2 separate regions of the Homo sapiens genome follow, and region 2 is linked to region 1. Evidence: fine-mapped expression QTL. Tissue or cell type: tibial artery. Region 1 holds a variant in brackets; the other region holds the start of a gene. All regions are shown on one strand. Distances are from middle to middle.

The links. PIP is the estimated chance that this variant, and not a neighbour inherited with it, causes the effect.
Region 2: it holds the start of HDHD3, and the variant in region 1 is fine-mapped to the expression of HDHD3 in tibial artery (GTEx, PIP 0.92).

What each region holds. Positions count from the first base shown.
Region 1 is chr9:113,341,855-113,344,610 of GRCh38, reverse strand. No RefSeq gene overlaps it. Among named protein-coding and RNA genes, the nearest start is that of WDR31, 3.0 kb to the right of the region's middle. The variant G/A (reference allele first, on the strand shown) is at 1,179.
Region 2 is chr9:113,375,594-113,378,202 of GRCh38, reverse strand. HDHD3 (haloacid dehalogenase like hydrolase domain containing 3) reads left to right here and starts at 1,217. Exons shown (of 3, transcript NM_001304509.2): 1 at 1,217-1,474. RefSeq lists a silencer at 846-1,365.

The DNA of each region.
Region 1 (2,756 bases):
GGTGGCAGATGCCTGTAGTCCCAGCTACTCGGGAGTCTGAGGCAGGAGAATGGCATCAATCCGGGAGGCAGAGCTTGCAGTGAGACGAGATTGCACCACTGCACTCCAGCCTGGGCGATAGAGCGAGACTCCGTCTCAAAAAAAAATAAAAATAAAAATAAAACAAAAAAAACTTCTGTAGAGACCTGAGTCTTTTTATGTTGCCCAGACCGGTCTCAAATTCCTGGCCTCAAGTGATCCTCCCACCTTAACCTCCCAAATTGTTGAGATTACAGGTGTGAGCCACCAGGCCTGGCCTAAACTTTTTATTTTAATGAACATTTTGGAAAGTCTTTTGGAAAGGACTATTCTTCCCTAGCCTTTACTTTCCCTCAGGCCTGCTCCTCGGTGTCAGGCCCAGCCTTTTCTGCCTGCCTGGTGGGGCCCTGGCCTGGCCCAGCCCAGCCCCCTTCTGCCTGGGCCTGTGTCCATTCCTCCTTCCTTCTCAGACACTGATCCAATATCTCTGGTGCCAGGGCTGGAAGTCATCTGACTGGGGTTTGCATGGTTTCCAGGAACAGCAATAAGACTACCAATACTGTGGCTTCTTTTCCTCCTGGGGTGTTTTCACAGTACAGCCAGCTTTAACTGTCACTTTTAAGAGGGATTTGGCAGCCTGCCATGCAGACAAATTCAGATCACATGGGTCCTCTATGATGAAGTCCAAGCCTCCCAATGACAGAGTGCTCTCTGCTCAGGCCAGACTAAACTAGATGAGAACAGCTCTCTTCTCCAGAGGGCTCTTCAGACCAGCCCATGTCACAGAAGGGGTGTTATCAATCTGGGCAAGTCCAGGAGAGAACAACCAACTCAGGCCATAAAGAGCCAAAAACTAGGATTATATTTAAATAAGGCAGAGCCACAGGCTGCCGTGGTTTGAACATGTCCCCCAAAGTTCATGTGCTGGAAACTGAATTCCCCTTGTAACAGTGTTGAGAGATGGGACCTTTAAGAGGTGATTAGATCATGAGGGCTCTGATCTCGTGCATGGATTAATGATGTTATTGTGGGAGTGGGTTCCTGATAGAAGGATAGGTTTGTCCCCTTCCCTCACTACTCCTGCATTCTCACCATGTGATGTCTTCCACCATGTCATAATGCAGCAAGAAGGCTCTCACCAGATGCAGCCTCTCGATCTT[G/A]GACTTCCCAGTCTCCAGAACCATGAGCCAAATACATTTCTGTTCATAATAAATTACCCAGTCTGTAGTATTCTGTTACAGCAGCACAAAATGGACTAAGACAAAGGCACTGGTAGTGTAAAGTTGAGGGGATGTGAAGTGAGGAGCCAGGAGAGGTCGATATGAAATTATGTTGCTTATACCCATAGCATTCTATCATGTCCTAACGGTCTGTCATGACTGTCTTTCCCTTGTAATCTTTGTTCAAAAATATTCAATGGCCATCTACTCTGTGCTAGCCCTACACTGTTCAATACCATAGCCACTAGGCCCATGTGGCTATTTAAATTTAAATTAATTAAAATAAATAACATGTAAAATTCAGTTCTTCAGTTGCACTAGCTACATTTCAAGTGCTCAATAGCTAGTAGGGCTAGTGGCTGATGTATTAGACAATGCAGGTATAGAACATTTCCATAATTGTTGAAAGTTCTGTTGCAGTGCTGTGCCAGACCCTGGGTTAGACACCAACAATACAAGTGTAAATGAGACTCAGTCACTGCCTCTGTTGCTTGCAGTTGAGTGAGAGAGAGAAGTAAATGAAAAGTTATACTATGTGGTGTAAAGTGTGGGGGCTTTGGAAGCACAGAAGAAGAATAGTTAACCCAGTCTGGAGAAGGGGAGGAATGGGTAGGGAAGACTTGGGGGCAGAGAGGGAGATGGCCTCTAAGCTGAGGATAAAGTCGTATGCTGCATAATAACATTTTGATCAATGATGGACTGCATGTACCTGGTGGTCCCATAAGATTATAACACTGAGGCGGGCGCAGTGGCTCACACCTGTAATCCCAGCACTTTGGGAGGCTGAGGCGGGCGGATCATGAGGTCAGGAGTTCGAGACCAGCCTGACCAACATGGTGAAACCCCGTCTCTACTAAAAATACGAGAATCAGCCGGGATGTGGGGGCACGCACCTGTAATCCCAGCTACTTAGGAGGCTGAGGCAGGAGAATCGCTTGAACCAAGGAGGCGGAGGTTGCAGTGAGCCGAGATCGCACCACTGCACTCCAGCATGGGCAACAGTCACTCACATGGCTGGCATTTGGTGCTAGCTATTGGATGGGCCATGTCTCTGAAACAGACTAGCCTGGTCCTCTTCCCATGCTGGCAGTGTGCCAAGAGGATGGGAGCAGAAACTGCAAGGCCTTTTGAAGCTTAAACTCAGAAGTCCCACGATGTCACTCCTGCTGCATTCTATTGGTCAAAACAAGTTACAAAGCCAGCCTTGATGGGAAGAGCTACAAAGAAGTTGTGGTCGTTTTTAATCTATCACACCCTGATGTTGGCCTGAATCCAGCTGGTAGGTAGAGAGAAGGTTTTTATTTTTATAATGTTTGGGAGGCAGAATTGAGAAGTCTCGGGGATTGTTCTTGAACGAGGAAGCAAGGGTAAAGTTACAAATGACTCCTAGATCCTTGGCTTGGGTGATTGGTGAATGGTAGTGCCCAGCACTTACAGGGAAAAGAGGGGGAACAGGTTTGAGGGGAAGATGATGTTTCCAGTATGAGTCATGTCAAGAATGAGGTGTCTTTTAAACTG
Region 2 (2,609 bases), 34 kb before region 1:
GTCTAGTGGTTAGGATTCCAGGCTCTTACCACAGGGATCTTTTTTTTTTTTTTTTTTTTTGGGGACACAGTCTCGCTCTTTGCCCAGGCAAATATTGTGCAGTGGCAGAATCTTGGCTCACTGTAAGCTCCGCCTCCCGGGTTCATGCCATTCTCCTGCCTCAGCCTCCCGAGTAGCTGGGACTACAGGCACCTGCCACCATGCCCGGCTAATTTTTTGTATTTTTAGCAGAGACAGGGTTTCACCGTGTTAGCCAGGATGGTACCACAGGGTTCTTAAAAACAAAAAGAGGCCAGGTGCGGTGGCTCATGCCTGTAATCCCAGCACTTTGGGAGGCTGAGGTGGGCGGATCACCTGAGGTCAGGAGTTCAAGACTAGCCAGGCCAACACGGCGAAACCCTGTCTCTACTAAAAATACAAAAATTAGTTGGGTGTGGTGGCACACACCTGTAATCCCAGCTACTGGGGAGTCTGAGGCAGGAGAATCGCAAGAAACTGGGAGGCGGGGGTTGCAGTGGGCTATCGCGCCACTGCACTCCAGCCTGAGCGACAGAGGGAGACTCCGTCTCAAAAAAAAAAAAAGAGAAAGAATAAAAAAGCAGGTTACTGCAGCGGACTCTACCCTCACCAAGTTATCTTGGATTTAACAAGTTTCCAACTGAAAGCAATTCCCTCCAATACCAACTGGGGACCCTGAGACCAGAGAGGGGCTGGGCCTTGCCCAGGTTCACACAACACTAAGCAAGCCAGGCTGGGTCCCAACTCCCCTCCTCCCACTCAACCTGGGTACTTCTCGGGGGTTTCCCGATCCAAAGGAGGCCAGGAGCCGGGGTTGGGGATGGGGAGCGGAGACAGCGGTGAGGAGCGGCGGTGTGGCGGGCAGGGGGTGCGCAGACAGGGCGGAGAAGGTGCTGGTAACGGGGGCTGCGGAGCGGAAGGGTGCGGGCTGGGGAACCTCAGAGGGTGCGGGGAGGGAATAAGGGGCGTAGATGGTGCAGGGTAACGGAGGCGCGCAGTGAAGGCGGGTGACAGGGGCGCAGAGAGGTGCACAGTGAGACGAAGGAGGGAGAGGGGACGGCGAGGGCGACGGGAGATGGGGCGGGAGAGGGCGAAGGTGAGGGGGATAAGGGCGGGGACGGGGCGGGGACAGAGGCGGGTCGGGATGGTAGGGAGGGGCGGCCCGCGCGATCCCCGCCCCACCGCCCGGCGCTTGCGCACCTCCGCCCGAGCTCGCGGGCCTTGCGGCTGCGTTTTCAATCTGCTTCCTTGTGAGTCAGGTGGGTCCTGGGCCCAGGAACCGGCCCGGAGCCGTGGACGCCCTACAGCTGAGAAGGGGACCCAAGGGGTCGGCCGCGGCCAAGGCCCCTAGGACCGCCGCCCCAGCTCACGCTGCCGACGGCAGCTATAGACATTCTGCGTCAGGTCCGGGCTCCTGGACTTCGCCTTTCCCGAGCCCTGGAGGTGGGGAGAAAAGGTGAGCAGTTCGTGCCTGCAGCGCAGAGCCCCAAACCCGCGGTTTTAGAAATCGAAAAAGCCCTGCCGGGCGCGGTGGCTCACGCCTTTACCGTAATCCCAGCACTTTGGGAGGCCGGGGGGCGGGGTGGGGCGGGGGAGGATCACGAGTTCGGGAGTTCGAGACCAGCCTGGCTAACATAGTTGAAACCCCGTCTCCACTAAAAATACAAAAATTAGCCAGGTGTGGTGGCGCGCGCCTGTAGTCCCAGCTACTCTGGAGGCTAAGGAAGGAGAATCGCTTGAATCCGGGAGGCGGAAGTTGCAGTGAGCCGAGATCGCACCACTGTACACCTGGGTGACAGAGTGAGACTCTGTCTCAAAAAAAAAAAAAAAGAAAAAAAGCCGGCCGGGTATAGTGGCTCACGCCTGTAATCCTAACACTTTGGGAGGCTGAGGTCGGGAGTTCGAGACCAGCCTGGCCAACATGGAGAAACCCCGTCTCTACTAAAAATACAAAAAAAAAAGGAGCCGGGGATGGTGGCGCATGCCTGTAATCCCAGCTACTTGGGAGGCTGAGGCAGGAGAATCGCTTGAACCTGGGAGGCGGAGGTTGCAGTGAGCCGAGATCGCGCCATTGCACTTCAGCCTGGGCAACAAGAACGAAACTCCGCCTCAAAAAAAAAAAAAAAAAAAAAAAAAAGCCGTGGGTCAGGAGCCAGAGCCCTCTGCTCTAGTCTTAGCTGTGCCAATGTGACTCCCTGTGTGATTTGGGGGTAAATTACTGCCCCTCACTGGGTCTCTGTCTACCCACCTGCAAAATGAGAGGATCTTTGGATGAGTCTCCTTAATTCATTTCCTGGACAAACTTCCTCCAAGGCTCCCCCAGATTTACCAGTGACGCCCTTCCCTAAGTATCAACTTAGCCGTACTTTGAACTCTGGCCCCTCAGGTTTCAAGGGGACGGCCTTGTCTGGGATCAGCTCTGTCTGGGGAAAGAAGCTGCACCAGCCTCTGGATAGCAGGCTGAGTCACTTGTTTCTTGTGCCTTGAGTCAGTTCTCTCATCAGCTCTCCTCCTAGGCCAGTGTTATTACCTCCAGTAAAGATGGAAAAGTTGGGGTTCAGAGAGGGCTAGAGACAGACAGCCTGCTGTGT